Linked DNA regions of Homo sapiens. The protein of the gene in region 1 interacts with the protein of each later gene in a biochemical or structural test. Each region holds a gene or a part of one and is shown on either strand. Other genes may lie near its edges.

Region 1 (5,501 bases):
CGCCATTCTTCTTAGCGGTGCCGTCCACTTCCCTCAGCTCATTGTGCTCTTCATTATTCAGTTTGCTCCACATCTTAAAGGAGGCAAGGCCGAGGTCTGCGATCTGCGAAAGACATTGAGCCACTGGGATTGTTTGGTGAAGGCCGTAAGCAAATCAGATCTGACTTTCAATTTTGGGCTTATCCATTATACATAAGGTACGGTAAATTTTCCAGAAATGGTTGCACTGGGCAGGTTCAAAACAGCGACTTCTCAACAGACTCATAGAAACTGTGTGTCTCCTCAGCCATTTGTAAAATGTCGCCCAGGAAACGTTCACATGAAATTCTGGTATCGTATTCCTTATGCAGTAAGGGGGAGGGGAAAAGCGGAAGATGTTTCTGACAAGAACAGTAACAACCAAACATATTTATTCTCATTCCCCATTGACTCTGCGTATGTTTTTCAACTATTTCTAGGGCTTGGGGGGAAAATGGTTATTTTCTTCTCTGCACATTTATGCAGCAGACAGTGGCTAAATACTACACCTTCTATTTCCCCAAATGGCGTCCAGAGGCCCATGGATGCAAGTGTCCAAGGATCCCAAAGACACACTGAGGATAAGGACTGCAGTGTTGCTTGTTTTGAGCTGTAGCCTGAACCTAAGAGGAGATAGGGTGGAAAGGAGGAGAAAAACAGACAAAAAAGCAGAGAGAAAAATAGCAAGGTCAGACACAGAACAAGAACAGTGCTGGCAGGGCAAAATGACAGGGCAGCACAGTTCAGAAGAGAATATAGGTGCCAGTTCCACTTCTGCCTCCAGGAATCCAAGCAAGCATGTGGGGATGAACTGTGGCACATGAGTACCTAAAATTCACAGATTCTAACCCACGACATAAGAGGGAAGTCATGAATTTGAAGATAGGTTATGAATAAGGAATTTTTATTCCCAGCCCTTTGTCCAAGACTAGGACAAAGCGCTAGACGCAGAACCTGCTGGTGATGAGAGGCCCCTGTGTCAGCAGCTCCTGGGTGCCTCCCCCAGGGCTGCTTCCCCTTCCGCTTCCCCTTTTGGATTCTTGTGCTTGGATTCCTGCTGCAGAAGCCAATTAGATATGACACTCCCCCTAGCTAAATCCTGCCCTTGAATGAACAAAAGAAAAATCCCTTTCCCTTGTTCCCTTTACGACAATGGAAAGAATGTGTTCAAAGGAAACTGATTTTTAAAATACAGACAGAAGTAAACAATCGAATACAAATATAAAACAAAATTTCAAAGTAGAGGTTTTTGATGCACTGCTGATTTTTTTTTTTTTTTTTTTTTTTTTTTTTTTTTTTTTTTTTTTTTAAGGCAGAGTTTCGCTCTTGTTGCCCAGGCTGGAGTGCGATGGCACAATCTCGGCTCACCACAACCTCCACCTCCCCGGTTCAGGCGATTCTCCTGCCCCAGCCTCCCGAGTAGCTGGAATTACAGGCATGCACCACCACGCCCGGCTGATTTTGTATTTTCAGTAGAGATGGGGTTTCTCCATGTTGGTCAGGCTGGTCTCGAACTCCCGACCTCAGGTGATCCGCCCACCTCAGCCTCCCAAAGTGCTGAGATAACAGGCGTGGGCCACTGCACCCGGCCGCTGATCTCACTCTTAGGCCATATCTGAACTCTAAGGATTTTCCGCACACACCTTCACATTCCCCTGCATTTCCAGAGGAGGAGAGTCTTGGTGACACAGATTTCCTGGAGAACATTATGACACCAATGGCCCATTCCAGGATGAAAAGGGCAACCCTTGAATGTTTCTAAATGTTTCTAACAGAGGAAAAAACACAGTCTAGGAAAGAGGTCTTCTCATCTACCCCATTCAACTCCACTCCTCCCCCAAAAGATATGAGTTATCCTGACAGTTATCTCCTGATCCCATCAAGCCTGCAGCCTTCCTCTCAATCACCGGTAGAGCCTTTCGGCACCATCATCAACAGTTATAAGCTGAGCTAGGTCTTCCTTTAGCTTCTCCAATGTACGAGAATGGATTTACATTGGAGAATTAAAACTAAAATCACCCAACTTTCTGGAAGCCTACCGATGATGGTTTACCTTAATGTGGAAGTCATTATCAACAAGGATATTTTCAGGCTTCAGGTCCTTGTGTATCACGCCTTTTCCATGTAAGTAGCACATTCCTTCAATGATTTCCAAAATTATCCTTCCTTTTACAGAAAGCGGAGTACTCATCTAAAACAAGTGATATTAAGTCTATGAAATGGAAAGGTTATCAAATAGGCCAAAGCAACTGTTTCATGAAAGGGTGGTGGGATCTGAGCCTGAGGAGAAGGTTACCAGGTTTCCTTCCAGCAGGTGCACCACAGTACTGCTGTCACTGGGAAACAAGAAAGATTTCATTCGGGGGGGGGCAGAGGGTATTCGTGTTGTATTTTGTTAGTGTAAAAACAAAAATCCCACAATAATTTGGTAATGCATAAAATACTATAAAATTAAGCTCCTTGAGAACAAAAATATATATTATTTAGGACTGTATCTTTAGAACCTAGGATTGTACCTGGAATGCTTGTTGAATGAATGGATGAATAAATATACGAGCAAGCAGTTTCTGTGGGATACTCACACGACATCATACTAAGTTTACATTAAGGACATGAACAATGCCATGCAAATGTCGCGTGTAAAATAACATTAAGAGAAAAAAGAATACAAGGGAACATGTTCACACTGATTACAATCATAGAAAAATCTGAGATAAACATGATGTTAAAACTACGCTTAAGTGAATTAATATCTATTTGATGACCTGGTAGCAGATACTTCAGGCTTCTGTAGAGTCTCAGGTCACTGGTTCTTATAATTGTATTCTTGTTATGTGAGCATCAATACTAACAGAAACAATTCCAGTTTCTATTATAGTGGTTAAATTACAGTTTTGCTTAACAATAAAAAATCAGTATACAAACAAGATGTTTCCTAAAAATGTATATGTATTTTGGTCGTTGGTTAACAGGAAAAAAATTTTAATGATAGAAGTGAGATTCCCCCTCAAACCATATTTATGACATAACGTAGCAGAGCTACACTGTTAATAGCTTGATCACCACCATACAGAAAGTAGCAGAAAAGATGTTTTCTCTTCTTCCTTGGTATACCTTTGGACTTAGGAAAAACTTCTGAGTAAGCAAAGTTGGTCCCCCTCTCTCCTCTCTTTCTGCTTCTCTCTCAGGTCCTCCTGATGCCCTGACTGAGTCCAAACAGGTGCACCTGAACTTTCCCTCATCTTGCACAATGCCTCATGTCCCCAATGATTTCTCTCTCATCTCAGAAGCTAAGCAGGGTTGGGCCTGGTTAGTACTTGGATGGGAGACCAAAGACTTATTTCCCAATCAAAATGTTTACTTCAAACAGCTGATCTTCTCTAGTTCTGGGGTGGAGAGCAATCTGATCAAACTATAATACCATGCGTATAAGTGATCACCTCTTCTCCTTCCCAAGGGTATTTTTGTGAGATGTCTGTTGGCTTGGCAATTGTGGGGTGGGAGAAGAAAGTGGAAAAGTGGGAGTATTTGCCATAAAGGCAGCCATATCCCGCCACCCCTCCCCATACCCTGTGCAATCTATGCTCTAGCCAAACCCAGGAATTTACAGTTCCCCAAATTTGGCAGTCTCTACATGGTATTCTCTCTGCCTAGAACACTTGTTCTCTAATTCTCTGCTTCAAAACGTCTACATGTCCTTCACATTGGAAGCCTTTTCTGTCTATTCCAGGCTGAGTGGGTGCCTCTCATGTGTACTCCCTCAGCAATGAGTATGTCTATCAAAACACCATCAGCTGGGAACGGTGGCTCATGCCTGTAATCCCAGAACTTCGGGAGGCCAAGGCAGTCGGATCACGAGGTCAGGAGTTCGAGACCAGCCTGACCAACATGGTGAAAACTTGTCTCTACTAAAAATTAAAAAAATAGCCAGGCATGGTGGTAGGCGCCTGTAATCCCAGCTACTCAAGAGGCTGAGGCAGGAGAGTTGCTTGAACCAGGGAGGTGGAGGTTGCAGTGAGCCGAGATTGCACCATTGCACTCCAGCCTGGGCGACAGAGCGAGACTCCTCTAAAAAAAAAAATACCACCACACAGCTGGGTGCAGTGGCTCATGCCCATAGTCCCAGCTACTCAGGAGGCTGAGGTGAGAGGATCATTTAAGGCCAGGAGTTCAAGCCTGCAGTGCACTATGATTGTGCCACTGCACTCCAGCCTGGGCAACACAGTGAGACCTTGTTCTCTTACAAAAGAAAAAAAAAAAACCCCATCACACCATACCACTTATTTAGCTATCTGCCTCCTTTTACTCTCCTACGTCATATTAGCTATTGATTCATGAGCAACTAGCGCAAGGCCTTCATCTTAACAGGCACATAAGCTTTTAAAAATGTTTTCAAATCATTTGACTTTGGTAAACAATTTTTATTTTTGTTTTAAATCCTATCCAGTGTTGTTGCCAATAATTTCTATATTTAATTTAAAATAAAACTTTGTTGAATGGTATCAAAGTGCAACCACTAATATTCTATCTGCTCTCACGGTCATTTATAGTGTATATCCTTTCATTAATCCATATTTAATGTCATCCCATCATGCATATACTCTACATCAGATGATGTCTGCATCATGAAGACAGGGCTTGTCTCTGAACTGTAGATTGCAGAGCAGCGGACAGGTATGGTAAACAGCCAATCACATTCCTAAGACACAGACTATGGAGGACTGTCCACAGGATCGAGAGGATGAAGAGACCACTCTCAGGGCAGTAAAAGGCAAGGAAGATTTTCTCTTTTTTTCAGAGACAGGGTCTTGCTCTGTTCACATGCACCTTTTATTTTTTGTAGAGAGGGGATTTCACTGTGTTATCCAGGCTGGTCTTGAGCACCAAGGCTCAAGTGATCCTCCTGCCAAAAGTGCTGAGATTACAGAAGTGACCCACGGAGCCCAATCAAGGCATAGATGTTTTAAGGAGAAACTGACTTCAGGAAATCCAGCCTGTAATCCCAGCTACTTGAGAGGCTGAGGTGGGAGGATCACTTGAGACCAGGTGTTGGAGTTCAGCCTGGGCAACATAGCAAGACCTTGTCTCTATAAAAAAAGGAAAAGAAAATTCAAACTACCAAGCAATTTGCAAATTTGATGCTAACGAGCTGCAAACAAACACCCCAAGGGGAGCCATAACAGACAGCCAGGGCCCAAGCGCTGGGGATCCCCGTGCGGAGGGGCCCTCTCTACCTCGGCTTTCAGCACGTGCATCAGGTTGCCCTTCTCCATGTACTCCATCACCAGGGAGTACTTCCCTTCCTCTATGATGACGCCCAGGAGCTTCACCACCCGGCTGTGTCTCAGTCTGTTCATCATCTTCGCCTCCTCCAAGAGGGCCTCGTTGTGCCTGTGGGCAGGAAAGGTGCTATGCTGAGGCTGGCAGAGCCAGCGCCTCAAGAGCCTGGTGCACACCTCCAACACATCACTCCCACGTGCTGG
Region 2 (5,007 bases), on another chromosome or scaffold:
TGACCAACATGGATAAACCTGGTCTCTACTAAAAATACAAAATTAGCCGGGCGTGGTGGCACATGCCTGTAATCCCAGCTACTAAGGAGGTTGAGGCAGGAGAACCACTTGAACCCGGGAGGAGGAGGTTGCAGTGAGCCGAGATCAGTGCCACTGCACTCCAACCTGGGCAACAGAGCAAGACTCCATCTCAAAACAAAAACAGAAACAAAAACAAAAACAATGCAAAAGATAATCAATAGGTGCCAAAACTTAGATGACAGAATTACCTGACAAAGATTTAAAAGCAGCTATGATAAAACTGAACAGTGGAAATTACTCGATCTGAATAGAGAGAAAATAGGAAAAACAAAATGAAACAAAAAACAGAGCCTTATAGACCCGTGCGTGAGACTATAGCAAAATCTAACACGTGTGTCACTGGACACACATGTCAAAAAGACAGAAGAAAGAGTAAAGCTGAAAAAATAAAGAGGCTGGGAGCAGTGGCTCACGCCTGTAATTCCAGCACTTTGGGAAGCGGAGGCGGGAAGATCACTTGATGTCAGGAGTTCGAGACCAGCCTGGGCAACATGGTGAAACCCCGTCTCTACTAAAAATACAAAAATTAGCCAGGCATGGTGGTGTGCCTTGTAGTCCTAGCTACTTGGGAGGCTAAAGTGGGAGTAATCGCTTGAACCCGGGAGGCAGAGCTTGCAGTGAGCCAAAATTGCGCCACTGCACTCCAGCCTGGGCGACAGAGTGAGACTCCGTCTCAAGAAAAAAAAAAAAAAAAAAAAAGAAAAAATATCCTGGAAGCAGAGAGAGAGAGAGAACACTGCATTTATAACGACAATTAGACTGACAGTGGAGTTCTCATCAGAAACCACAGAACCCAGAAGATAGTGGCATAGTATTTTTCAGGTGCTGACAAAAATGGAAGGGAAGTCAAGACATTCTCAGACGAGGAAAAATTGAGAGAATTTGTTACCAGCAGACCCACTATAAATAAAGAATGGCTAGAGGAAATTAACTAAACAGAAAATAAATAAATAAAAGAACCTTAAAATATGAGATGTAAAAACACGGTAGCAAAAATATGAGTAAATACAATCGACTTTCCTTCTCTTGAATCTTCTGAATTTTGTCTGATGGTGAAAGTGAAAACTATAATACAGTTAGATGTAGTTCTAAATGTGTGTAAAGGAAATAGTTCAGAAAGGCCAAGGTGGGAAGATCACTTGAGGTCAGGAGTTCAAGACCAGCCTGGCCAACATGGTGAAACCCCATCTCCACTAAGAATACAAAAATTAGCAGGGCGTGGTGGCACGTGCCTGTAGTCCTAGCTACTCGGGAGGCTGAGGCAGGAGGATCACTTGAACCTGGAGGCAGAGGTTGCAGTGAACCCAGATCGCACCACTGCACTCCAGCCTGGGTGACAGAGCAAGACTCCATTTCAAAATATATATATATATATGTATTTGACACAAGTATAACAAAAAATTAACACTTCTGATCAGCCGGAAAATCACACAATAAATAATCCCCAAAATATTATCATGTCTTTTTCATCCTCAGTTTAATGGGATCAAGTATTTCCTGCATTTATTTCTCTCCCTAGTTCCTGATAGACCTGTTACAAAGGTTTCACAGCAAAACTCCTACTAGCTAGCCCATAAAAGTCTCCTCATTTTATACCTCCACCAACAGATTTCATAGGAATCTCATGAATGAAAAAGGTCTACTTGTCTTTTTCTACAGTACAATGAAATACAGCCTGTGTAGTGGCACTTTTGGTGAGAAGGCAACAGGGAATGTATGTAGCCCAATGAATAAGAACACGTCAAAGGAAAAGTCAATGAATAAAACAAATCATTCTGACCCCTACTAATCCCTTGGAAGTGACATACACATTTAGACCAGTCATTCACACTAACACACAACTACTATCATCAATAAATTCAAAAAATTATTTTAAAAAATGCTTCAGAAATATTTTAAGAAAAACATTTCCATCATTCAAATACACTAAAAACACCTCTCGTCACCCTAGATATATTTGCTTTTGCTGAAGAGATTTTAATTCATTACGGTATTTAAAAGGTTACAGAAACCAATATATTGCTATTTCACCATAACTGTGATACATCTGAGTTGTGAGGCAATCAGATTCCTTATTTAGAAAAATAAACTTATGCTAAGCTAACTAAAACCTTCAAGGTAAAAACTGAAGTTTCAAGAACAATTAAATCAACCAAAGAATAATTTTGGTTCCATATAATAAGATCTTCTGATATACATGAAATCATACTTTAGTATATAAACATGTATTCATGCCCTCTCATTTCCCCTCTAAGAAGCATTTCATTTAAAAAAGTTATACAGAAGCTTAACTAGAGGCATTAGCTGTGCTTTTTCTGTTTAGACAATTAAGGAACTGACATCAAACATGAAAACAATGCTTTGACACATTTCTGACGAAGAACAGCAATAATTAAAAATTTAATAACAATTAAATTTAAATTAATTTTAAATTAAATTTTAATAACGTTGCTTTGTTTTGAATTCCTATTTAGAGTTACTATTTAAAGGATATAATGGTTTTCTATTTATAGTAGCAAAAAATTTCCTTTAAAATAAGCTTATTTAAAGGAGTCAATTTAAATTGTATTAAATAGAATTAGTAAGTGCACAGATATGGCAAACATCTGAAAGTGTAAATGCCCGTATTTGGCTGACATTAGTATATCACATGGCTAGCAAGTATTAGCCTGTGTTCTAGTTCTAGCTGTCTTTGAACAAAGCAATCTGTTTCCTCATCTCTGAAAATGAAGGGACTAAAGTGGAATAAAGGGAATTTGGGAGCTGGAAAAAATATAAGCGACCATTTGGTCCTGACATAAGAATTTACAAGTAACGTGCATAACACTATAGATTTAGTTCTATTGCGTCTATAGCAAAAGAACAATTTTTTTGCTTAGACAAGAAACTAAAAAACAAGAGTACGGCTGGCATATACCCTCCATATAATTTCTAGAGCCCTTGGTCAAATTAGCCAAGAAAAACAATATATTTCCAATCAGACATATTCTTACTCTGCTTAGATCTCTTAGAAGGCCTTATCTGGGGATATTTTATCAGTGACATCAAAGTTTCAATCACAGGAACACATTCAATCTTGGCTTCTACTTCTGTATTTGATAATCTAAACCCAAAATAAAACACTTTTGTAGTACCAGTTATTTATATACATAAATGACCCAAGATAGTTTTCAAAATTTAAAAATGGCATATAATCAATCAATATACAACTGGCCTTATTAAACTGCAAATAAAATGCTGTGACAGCTATTCTTCCTGGAACTTTTTTTTTTATGTGTTCTCTGAAGAAAGATTCATGATCTTCCCAAAGGTTTATACTCTTTAACAAAGACCAGTACCTAGACAATGCTTTCCTACTCACTGTCTTTATATATTCTCTCTATATTTTAAAATCTGAGTAAAAGAATTCTTCAAAATGAATTCCTAGGCTGGGCATGGTGGCTCATGCCCGTAATCCCAGCACTTTGGGAGGCCAAGGTGAGAGGATCACTTGAGGCCAGGAGTTTGAGACCAGCCTGCGCAACATAGTAAGACTCCCGTCTCTACAAAAGATTTAAAAAAAAAAAAGTAAAAACAGAAAACATTAGCCAAATGTCATGGCATGCACCTATAGCCCCAGCTACTCAGAAAGCTGAGGTGGGAGGATCACTTGTGCCCAGGAGTTTGAGGCTACAGTGAGCTGTGATCCTCCAGCCTGGGTGACGGAGAGAAACTCTGTCTCAAAAAAAAAGAAAAAAAAAAAAAAATTCCTGAAGTCATGTACTTGAGAACTTTAAATGAGTATGTACATAAAAAACATCCGAATGTCTCGATTACTGGCTTCATTTGTTGGTCTTCAATTAAGTTAGTTTGACCTCATGTATTCAGCCCTATCCCAATGTTATCTAGCACCAAGAACATGAAATAGCACCATTAATTCTACTCAAGACTAGAAGAAATGCTAAAGAAAATCTTCCTAATAAAACTGTCTTCTATTTTATCTATTACTTTGAAACTTTGCTTGATACTCGAAAGCATGTTGCTCTCATTAGCAGGAACTAAACTTCCAGAGTTAAAAAAAAATTTTAAAATAAACATATTCTGGAATAGTGTTATTTTCTTTGTGGGCTGGGAGAACATGAAAAGTTACTCATAAAATATGTATTTATTAGGAATAGTATTATTAATTTGACTGTTAAACATTCTAATCATTTCCTTTTTAAGGGCCAGTGAAATACAATTATTTTCATATCAAGTCTTCCCAAAGGAAAGACTTTGTATAATATCTGTCAGTTTCACCTAAAGAAGAAAAACTGAGAAATCAATCTTTGTCTCTCAACCTAACAAATGTTTTCTTTCATTATTTACATCACACACAGCCTTTTGCTTACTACCTACTAAACACAAGTACAAAATTCCTGCCCTAAAAAAAAAAGCAAAACAAATACTAAGCAAGGGACAAAACAAATCTTATGCAGATTGTTTACATATCTTCTGAGCACTTCTATTTTAGTGGGCAAGTGGGTAGGCATAATGGGGTACTGAGAAAAAAAGGAAAATGTTTTAAAACATGAAAATGTTATAACATTTTTTTATGATGAAAAACAATGTGGACTGCATATATTATCTCAGATAAAACAGATTTCCATCTATACTAGAGTTTCCTTGTGGCTGATTTCAAAAGGATGACTCAAACAGAAAGAACTGCTTTAGTATGTTTGCGGTGGAACCATTTTATGAAACCAATTCAGCTGATGACTGGAGTTTAATTCATAGCAGTTTCTTGATAAGAGTGAAAATTTAATCACCTTCTTCATTCTTTTGCAACCAGCAGGAGTAACACATAGCATTTTTACATAAAAGGAGAAATAATGGTGTGCAGTAGTAGTTGGAGGTTACTACTTTCTGCTAGTGTCTTTTAGCTTCTCAACACAGCAGTGGAGGAAG
Region 3 (5,007 bases), on another chromosome or scaffold:
AGGAGAATGGCGTGAACCCAGGAGGCGGAGCTTTCGGTGAGCTGAGATTGCACCACTGCACTCCAGCCTGGGTGACAGTGTAAGAGTCCATCTCAAAAAAAAAAAAAAAAAGAGTGCAAATGCTTAGGGCAGTAGAGGCAGGATTGCCGAAGGAGCAGAGGTAGCCCGGTGAGGAGCTTGGTGGTTCCTTGGGAGAAAAGCATAGCGCCGTCTTCCCAGCGTGCATGAAGGGTGAGGTGGAGCAGACGTAATCATCTTTCCATCCATCAGAAGAGTCTGTGCCAGAAAACAGTGACTTCCTGTGGCAAGACATCAAGTGACTTAAGCAAACAAGGAACTGAGGATTGAAGGAAAAAGGCTATCTCGATTTTCTGGTATTAATGATAAAAGGGGATTGTAGCTTATTAATCAGTTGAGTCTGGTTCCTTACCTTCTGCCCCTGTGACTGTTATCTTGTTTCTGAAGTGTCAGTTGGAGATAGCATTTGGTATAATACTTTTAGGATTCCTCTGTTTCCATCCACGGGTTGTGCTGTCCTAATTGTAGACAACTAGTAGGAAAATGGGAGCTCTGATCCCTCCTGTTCTGATGGGCTAAAATAGACACATAAACTCATTATACCATCTGGACTAATTTCATTGACCAAATCCCATTAGAAGAAAAGCAAACTATTTGGAAACAAAATGCTAATAACCGCATATGTTCTTTGTAACGTGGCTAACCTGCTGCTGTTCCCTGAGCTTCCTGCATGACATCCCAACCACTCAGTGGTCAGAGCAGAAGTCAGGCTGTTGCCGTAGCCAGGGCCAAGAGGAGCTGGGATGTGATGTCCTAGACAAAGGGTAGGGCTGGTCAGGGATCCCCTGTGAGAGGGAGCGTTTCCCAGGGCAAGCTGCTTTGAAAAAGAATCAGAGCCTCCTGGCTGCTTTTGGTTCCTAAATACATTTTTTTTCAGGAGTATGTTGAGTTGAATAACTGAGATTTTGGGCATATTACCAATGCTGCATCTGCCACTGGAATGCTGGGCTACTTTAAAAGGAGTTCCACAGAGATGGAATTAACAGCTGGGCTAAAAAAATCTGTTTTTCACATCCTTTGCCCTGCTGCACCAAACCTGCCCAAACATGTGACTCAGCTATTTTGCAGACCTAATGGCATCTCCAAGCAGCTCACCACAGTGATGAGTTCCTGGCCCACCTGCTCTTTTGTAAGGAGCAGGATGGTCTGTGCCTCATTGTTCTAAGAATTCCTCGAGTGAGATGTGGCTACTTGTGGAGATCCCACCATTGACATGCATGTCCCCAGTTAAGATGACCCAGATAAATGCTCTGACCTGGTTACCACCTTGTGGCAAGCCCTTGGATGCTGGTCATCTTCAGTCACTTCTTTGGGACTGCTGTCCAATAAATGTCACCACCTTTGTCCTCAATGCTGGCAGTTTTGTAAAGAAGCCAAGATTGGAGGCTTTCTATGCCTGGGGTGAGGCAAATTGATTAATAACTGTGGGAGGAGGGTGGAGGGTGCATAAGCCATCTGTCATTGCTAACCGCCTCCTGTGGACAATAGGACCATGATTTCCAAGTGTCCTTCACTAACTTAAGCTGGGGGGGAAAAAAACTATAAAGGCTACAGATATAAATCTGAATGGCATATTGTACATGTAGAAATTTGTGGTGTTCACTTTTTATCAGAACTAAATCCGGATTCTGGGGCTGGAGGACAGATAAAGCAGAAGTTGTTAATGGTTACGAAGCAAAGGTAAAAGGAAACTCTTAAAATAAGATTTAATATAGCTATTTAGCTTCTATGCAAATGAGGAATCTGTTCCCATTTTTTTCATGCATCTGTGCCATGGAGATGCTCTGGGGAATGAGAACTGTCTAATGTGTCTCTCACTTGGATGTTTGATTTTGTCTTATTTGACTTTCAGAAAATGGGATAGCATGCCCTGAGGAGGTCTGTAGCTATGCTAAAGAGAAACAATATGGTAGAGAAATGAGTACAGGTACCAGTTGTTCTGGTAGGAATGACAAGCTAGTCATTCCCTTAATTATTTAAAAAAAAAAAAGGAAGAGGAAGGATTAGACTTCACATGTGTTCAAATGTTGTGTAGTAGCTTTTGAGTCTCTTTTTTGTTAAATCAGCTTAATTGTAATCAGCAGGCGCACAGCCCATTTGCATGACATCAGTGCATTTAAAACATAGTTGTAATAGTGGAGACGATTGTTGATCCAGTCATCTGGCATTTTGTCAGCTGGAAAGCTGTTTCCTGGCCTTTCAGTCCCTCAGTACAACAGGGATTGATGGCTTTTGGTGTTGGAGCCCAGTGCTGCAGGGTCCTCTGGTGGCCTCTGAGTGAGCAAAGAAAGGCTTACGTCATGCTCAGCAAGATACATTTAGAAGCACTTGTCATAGTGCTGAGTGTGTTTTCTGCAGCTTTGAATGTTGGGGCTCCTCACGTGGCATATAGAGAGAATTCTTTGTTAACTGTTATGTTTGATTTTCTAGACCACCATATTCCCCAGTTATCCTTGATAACAGAGCATTTGCTCTGGCAGTTACAATAATTTTTGTCAGTGCACAGAATGCCTTTTAAATAGTGACTTGCTGGTTTTCTCTACAGCTCATAAGTCTATAGAGAACCTTGTGTTCATACCTTTCTCTTCTGCCCAGCAGATGGCTGTCTGAGTCATACTAGTATTACAAGACTACCAGCGGAGGCTGGGTGCAGTGGCTCACGCCTGTAATCCCAGCACTTTGGGAGGCCCAAGTAGGCAGATCACTTGAGGCCAGGATTTTGAGACCAGCCTGGCCAACATGGTGAAACCCCGTCTCTACTAAAAATACGAAAATTAACCAGTCATAGTAGCACATGCCTGTAATCCCAGCTACTCTGGAGGCTGAGGCACGAGAATCGCTTGAACCCAGGAGGCGGAGGCTGCAGTGAGCAGAGATCACGCCACTGCACTCCAGCCTGGGCAACAGAGGGAGACTCTGTCTCAAAAAAAAAAAAAAAAAAAATTACCAACAGAAGTACAGGATCCTGGTTTGGGTACCTTAGTTTAATAGAAACCCAGGTGGAAACCTAGATTGCAGGGCATTTGTTTGAGACTATTTAGCCACAGCAGGGCAAGCAGGAAGATGCAGCCTGTCACTGCTAACTCCTTAGTATTAAAACTGTCAAACATGGGAGGTAACTGCTGATGCATTTTTCAGTTGATAGTTTATATACTTTCTCTGAAGGATCCTAATGATAGTTAACCATTTCTCATTTTTATTTTGCTGGATTGTTTTCTGTTTTTTGCTTCAGCATTCTTGCTTTTGCTGTGCTTACTTTTGGAGTTTTGATTCCCTGTGTCACTGTTTTCTTTCGCATACACCTCTCAGGTTTACACAGTAAACAATGTGAATGTGATCACCAAAATACGCACAGAACATCTGACCGAGGAGGAAAAAAAGAGATATAAAGGTAATCACCACCACCCTCCCACCTCCTGTTTTGTTGTTATTTTTTAAGCCTAGAGGGAACTCTTTGTTGGCTCTGTTAAGTTTAGGGTTAATGTGATTGGGTTGTGTTAAGCCTAACCCTAACTTCTTCTCTCTCTCTCTCTTTTTTTTTTTTTTTGAGGCAAAGTCTCGCCCTGTCACCCAGGCTGGAGTGCAGTGGCACGACCTTGGCTCACTGCAACCTCTGCCTCCTGGGTTCAAGTGATTCTCCTGCCTCAGCCTCCTGAGTAGCTGGGATTACAAGCACCCACCACCACGCCCGGCTAATTTTTTGTATTTTCAGTAGAGACGGGGTTTCACCATGTTGGCCAGGCTGGTCTCGAACTCCTGACATCAGGTGATCCTCACCCACCTCGGCCTCCGAAAGTGCTGAGATTACAGGCGTGAGCCACCGTGCCTGGCCCCTAACTTCTTTTTTATAAAAATTTCTGGCCAGGCACGGTGGCTCATGCTTGTAATCCCAACACTTTGGGAGGCCAATGTGGGCGAGTCACCTGAGGTCGGGAATTCAAGACCAGCCTGACCAACATGGAGAAACCCCATCTGTGCTAAAAAAAAATACAAAATTAGCTGGGTGTGGTGGCCCATGGCTGTAATCCCAGCTACTCAGGAGGCTGAGGCAGGAGAATCACTTGAACCTGGCAGGCGGAGGTTTTGGTGAGCTGAGATCGTGCCATTGCACTCCAGCCTGGACAACAAGAGTGAAACTCCATCTCAAAAAAAAAAAAAAAATTTCCTGGCTGAGCACGGTGGCTCACACCTGTAATCCCAACACTTTGGGAGGCCAAGGTGGGCAGATCACTTGAGGCCAGGAGTTTGAGACCAGCCTGGCCAATATGGTGAAACCCTATCTTTACTAAAAATACAAAAATTAACCAGGCGTGGTGGCGCACTCCTGTAGTCTCAGCTACTGGGGAGGCTGAGGCAGGAGAATCGCTTGAACCCCAGAGGTGGAGGTTGCTGTGAGCCAAGATTGTCCCACTGCACTCCAGCCTGGGTGACAGAGCTAGACTCTGTCTCAAAAAAAAGAAAAAGGAAAGAAAATTTCCTTAGTCTGACTCATTCTTGGAGGTGTTTCCCCATAGTTGGCCTCAGCTGTAATTAAAGCTATTCGTGAGGGCTTGTTTATGTGTTATCAAGAACAATTGTTGAATTCAGCCAAAAAAGGAGATAAGGACATTTGAGAATATTTATCATTGGAATGAGTGATTTAGTCCAAACTATTGTGATGAAAGATTTAGACAGAACTTGGGGTCCAAGCAAAAACATTGCATGTGGTTGCCACATCCCAGCCCCATCCCAGCCCCACCAGTTCTATGGCCTTGTGAAATTACTTCTGCTCTGTGCCTTAGTTCCTCAGCAGTGAAATGCAGGTGATACCCAACCTTCCTTAGAGTTATTGAGAGGATTAGATGAGTTACGACGTGGAAGCCTTTAGAATGGCGCCTGCAGTATGTGGTAAGCATGCAGTAATTGTTCACCAGCACCACCACCACCATT
Region 4 (5,007 bases), on another chromosome or scaffold:
TAAGAGACACTCTATGTCCTTTCTTTCAGGTAACTATCAGTAAAATGAGTATGGTGGGGGGGGATAGATAGATATAATATGTAAGGCAAGATGATATGTACATTGAGATAGATCTCATCTCTCCTGCTTCTAGGACTTGATTGAATCCTATCTAGCATGCTCTTCTTTCCAGTCTGCCTAGTGTAAATTATATTTCATTAAATCAGCCCATCATCAGAACAGTGTTTCTTGATGCCTCTCATTTTTTTCTCATGTTTTCTGGCATTTTTCCTTCATTACTTTTTTTTTAGTTCATAATTCAATATTTATATGATTGTTTGATGTATAATAGACAAAAATACATCTGCTTTGCTTTCGAGTATCTAACATAGTGTCTGCCTCATAAAAGGCACTCAGTAAGTACTTGTTGAATGAATAAGTGGTTGATTGAATGCATGATTGAATGAAGTGATATTTGAATTTAGCTTTAAAGGTGATTGGAATTTTGGACAGGTAGAGCAAATGAATGGGAAATTTATTGTTCTGAAGTGGAAACTGGATCATATTGCTCATGTAATTTCAGAAAACTGGAGAAACTGGTTTGGGAAAATGGAAGAGTTGGTTTTATATCTAGTATGCTAAGTTTGAGGTATGGAAATTTAGCAGGCATTTAGAAATGAAGCACTGATCTGAAGGGTGAGATTGATTCCAGATATTCACTTTTGGGAGTTACCTGACTGGAGAATGTGAAATCTGTTCCTTTCACAAATACCTGGTAAGCTCCTACTGTGTGCCAGACAGCTATGTTATAGGGAAGGTGAACTGCAGTCTGAGAAGGAGCCAGTCTTGTGAAAAGAGCTAGGGAGAATGTTTCAGCCAGAAAAGGAACCCAAGTTTGTAGGCCCTGGGGCAATAAATAATTTATAATTTTTGAGGAATTGAAGGAAGGTGACCGAAGGACAGAGCAAGGTGAGTGAAGTGGGAGAGCTGCATGAGGTAAAGTGGAAAAGGCAAGCAGAGCCCACATCACATGGGGACTTTGTGGGCTAGATAGTGAGTCTAGCCTTCACTCAAAAGTGTGGTGGGGCTGGGCATGGTGGCTCACACCTGTAATCCTAGCACTTTGGGAGGCTGAGGCAGGTGGATCACCTGAGGTCAGGAGTTTGAGACCAGCCTGGTCAACGTGGTGAAACCCCATCTCTACTAAAAATATAAAAAATTTTAGCCAGGCATGGTGGCTTATGCCTGTAATCCGTGCTACTCGGGAGGCTGAGGCAGGAGAATTGTTGGAACCCGGGAGGTGGATGTTGCAGTGAGCCGAGGTTGCACCACTGTACTCCAGCCTGGGTAACAAAAGTGAAAACTCTGTCTCAAAAAAAAAGAAAAAGAAAAAAAAAAAGGGTGGTGGGACACCATTGAAGGCTTAAAACAGAAAGTGACAAGCAAAGATTCTTTTTCTAAATAAAAGGTTACCCTGGCTACTCTGTAGAGAATAGAGAGTCACAAAGAAGGGACCAGTAAGGAAGTGTTTGTCTCCCTTCTTGAGAAGGATCATCGCAGATAGGGCAGGATATGGCAGTGGACATAGAACGGGATAGTTGCAGGATGCATTTAAAAAGTAGAACCAGGCTGGGCATGGTGGCTCACGCCTGTAATCCCAGCACTTTGGGAGGCTGAAGTGGGCAGATCACCTGAGGTCAGGAGTTTGAGACCAGCCTGACCAACATGGAGAAATCCCGTCTCTACTAAAAATACAAAATTAGCCGGGCGTGGTGGTGCATGCCTGTAATCCCAGCTACTCAGAAGGCTGAGGCAGGAGAATCATTTGAACCCAGGAGGCGGAGGTTGTGGTGAGCCGAGATCATGCCACTGCATTCCAGCCTGGGCAACAGAGCAAAACTTTGTCTCAAAAAAAAAAAAAAAAAAAAGTAGAAGTAAAATTCACTAGAGAAGGAAAGGAAGAAGGAAGAGTATGGAGTACAGAACCCTAGGGCCTATGTAGGGGGCAAAAGAAGGAACCAGGGAAGGAAAATAAGGGAGCAAGAGTGGTCATTGATGTCAAAGGTAAGTCAGGCTACCACGCTTGCAGTGGGAGCCAGTGTGGGAGAAGGAGTCTGTAAGGGGAATTCAAGTGTATCCAGAGTAAGTGTGCTGTCTGATGTGTGGCAAGTCAATACCCAAGACCTGGGGGCGGGGTTTATTTGTTGGGCTGCAGAATGAGGAGATGAGAGGGAACTGCAAATCCGTCCTCCTGAGGAGTTTGGAGCTAGGGTTTTTAAGGATTTTGGAGTGGGCTGGAATGTGGAGATTGTTGGGTGGTCAGAGAGAGAAAGGTGAAGTAATGGGACCCGGAGATGAAAAAACTGTATTATGCTGATTTTATTTCTCTCTGAGGGTCTTCAAACTGGTTGGCATCAGCTGTTTTACCAGAATTTGGGATCTGAAAAATATCTCAAGCAATTCTTAAAAAAAAAGCCTTATGCTTCTAATGTCAGAGATACTATCTTTAGAAACAATAGGGATGCAAATGGTCAGTATCTAGCGCTGTGTGACTTTCAGTTACAAGGAAATGTGTCAAAATCCAGCCTGATTAATGTTTTTTTTTTGTTTGTTTGTTTGTTTGTTTTTTTTTGAGATGGAGTTTTGCTCTTGTGGCCCAGGCTGGAGTGCAATGGCATGATCTCGGCTCACTGCAACCTCTGCCTCCTGGGTTCAAGTGATTCTCCTGCCTCAGCCTCCTGAGTAGCTAGACTACAGGTGTGTGCCACCACACCTGGCTAATTTTGTATTTTTAGTAGAGATGGGTTTTCACCGTTTTGGCCAGGCTGGTCTCAAACTCCTGACCTCAGGTGATCCGCCCACCTTGGCCTCCCAAAGTGCTGGGATTACAGGTGAGCCATCGCACCTGGCCTAATGCTTAATTAAAGTTATATTTCTGTCCATAGTTCTTGGTAACCCTCTGAAGACAGCTTCATAATGAAGAATTTGGGTAGGTTTTGGGTGCATGGGGCTTCAGGGAGTCATGAAGGTTGAGGACATAGGAAAGAATCACACATTTATCCATCAGAAGATCATTGGTGACCATTGGCCGGGCGCTGTGGCTCACGCCTGTAATCCCAGCACTTTGGGAGGCCGAGGCAAGTGGATCACGAGGTCAGGAGATCGAGACCATCTTGGCTAACACGGTGAAACCCCGTGTCTACTAAAAATACAAAAAAATTGGCCAGGCGTGCTGGTGGGCACCCGTAGTCCCAGCTACTCAGGAGGCTGAGGCAGGAGAATGGCGTGAACCCGGGAGGTGGAGCTTGCAGTGAGCCAAAATCGCGCCACTGCACTCCAGCCTGGGCAACAAAGCAAGACTCAATCTCAAAAAAAAAAAAAAAGCTGTTGGATCGGTGTTTACTAAGCACCTACTCTAAGCCTGTCACTGTGTTAGTGTTAAGGATTTGTGTGAATGACCTCTTTTAGGTACTTCATTTTACAGATGAGAAAAATGACGCTTAGGGAATTAATCACCTTAACAGGTCACACAGAAAGAAGACTATGAGTTCTGTCTGACCCAGGCCCCATGCTCCTAAACCTTGCATGACACTGCTCTTTGGAAAGCCCTATCAGGACATCAGCTAGAGAGGAATGAAAGGTTTTTAGAGCCCAGTGATGGCTTACCCCAGCTGTATGAATTTGTTAGCAACCCAGTTAAATAAAGTCTTCTGATTTTTCTATAGTAATCTGGCAGTTTAGGAATGGAGAGGTGGGGGAGGGAGGGGAAGATAAAAGATAGAGTAAGAGTTCAGTAAATTAGAAAGGGGATTATTTTGTTGTTCATAAGTGTAATGATTGGATTTTCATGCACATGTATGAGATGTGCCTCCATCAAGCCTTGTTACTACAAAGTCAGTGCATTACCCATCTGATGTGGGAAAAATAAATCAGAAAGAGGCCTCAGCTTGTGGGAATGGTGGAATGCAATGGCTTGTGTTGTTAAGCAAAATTGTGTTTTACAGTAAATATTTATTGTGGTTCTTTTGATGCAAGTTATATTGGGATATGGAGGAAAATGCAAAAATGGATAAGATGGTGTATTTGACCTCTACACGGTTAGAGAGGAAGGTAAAGTGCTTCACTATAGTGCTTGATTGAAGGGTATGACAGGGGTGGAAGGTGGAGAAGTATGGGAAAGTATTATACAAGTTAGCTTGTAGAGCGAGGGTGGCATTAGGTAGGGCTGGCCAGGGTGGTGCCAATCTAGCTTCTCAGGATGACCCCTCAGGATTTTGGTCACTGTGTCGTCAGTCTAGTCTTGGGTCACAAAATGTATTTTGTGGAGAACCTGGAAATAATTAGTCTTGAAGACAGGATTGTATTCAGACTTGAGTGATTGAGCTCAGAATGGAATGCCAATTTATTATTTTAGAATGAAGGATTCCTTTTCCGTTAACGGGATTCTGGAATTTGTTAGGATAATTGCTTTTCAATATCAAGAGATCTGGCAATCAAATTTAATAATATCAAGCTTGCTTGGTGAGCATGGATTTATAAGATAGAATGGTTTGTGGGGGAGAATATAGTTACAAAAAAGATTATTGTTTCCCATAATGCCTGGTATTGTATTAAGTACTTTGCATACAGTAGGGCATTTCATTGTCCCAGTGATCCTCCTGCAAAGTAGGTACAATTATCTTCAATTTACAAATGAGGAAACCAAGCTCTCTTCAAGCTGATAAGATGCTGAACTGAGATTTGAACCAAGTCCCTCTGCCCCTAAGAGCCCCTACCCCTAGCTGCTACTATATGCTGTACCCATCTAAGCTTTGTGAAATAACCTTGTTCCACTGCAGAGAAGATGTTGTGTCACCTATCTCTAGTATTTCTTGGCTTTGGGCAGTTCTGGAGTCAAAATGCCCCTCCCTGTTTTTTCTAGATTTTTCCAGATTTCTTTGTTAACCAGTCTTAGATGTGGTCACATTCTTTGTTTAAATACCCGTGTATTAATATAGTCATCCAAGCCTTTTTGTCCTCTTCTTGCTT

What was found. Proteins that work in one complex are often made in the same cells at the same time.
Region 2: of the proteins of RIPK1 (region 1) and PELI1, one has a biochemical effect on the other in vitro, tested with the Homo sapiens proteins (one study listed by BioGRID).
Region 3: the proteins of RIPK1 (region 1) and ANKRD13A form a complex in vitro, tested with the Homo sapiens proteins (one study listed by BioGRID).
Region 4: of the proteins of RIPK1 (region 1) and RFFL, one has a biochemical effect on the other in vitro, tested with the Homo sapiens proteins (one study listed by BioGRID).

Annotation. Positions count from the first base shown.
Region 1 is NC_000006.12:3,077,687-3,083,187, reverse strand, and holds part of RIPK1 (receptor-interacting serine/threonine-protein kinase 1), read right to left. Parts: intron 5,410-5,501; coding exon 5,253-5,409; intron 2,210-5,252; coding exon 2,072-2,209; intron 1,254-2,071; exon of another isoform or gene 528-1,253; intron 104-527; coding exon 1-103. UniProt on the Homo sapiens protein: Serine-threonine kinase which is a key regulator of TNF-mediated apoptosis, necroptosis and inflammatory pathways.
Region 2 is NC_000002.12:64,109,489-64,114,495, forward strand, and holds part of PELI1 (E3 ubiquitin-protein ligase pellino homolog 1), read right to left. Parts: intron 3,185-5,007; exon of another isoform or gene 3,075-3,184; intron 1-3,074. UniProt on the Homo sapiens protein: E3 ubiquitin ligase catalyzing the covalent attachment of ubiquitin moieties onto substrate proteins. Involved in the TLR and IL-1 signaling pathways via interaction with the complex containing IRAK kinases and TRAF6.
Region 3 is NC_000012.12:110,022,355-110,027,361, forward strand, and holds part of ANKRD13A (ankyrin repeat domain-containing protein 13A), read left to right. Parts: intron 1-1,691; coding exon 1,692-1,758; intron 1,759-3,387; coding exon 3,388-3,469; intron 3,470-5,007. UniProt on the Homo sapiens protein: Ubiquitin-binding protein that specifically recognizes and binds 'Lys-63'-linked ubiquitin. Does not bind 'Lys-48'-linked ubiquitin.
Region 4 is NC_000017.11:35,053,276-35,058,282, reverse strand, and holds part of RFFL (E3 ubiquitin-protein ligase rififylin), read left to right. Parts: intron 1-3,788; exon of another isoform or gene 3,789-3,895; intron 3,896-5,007.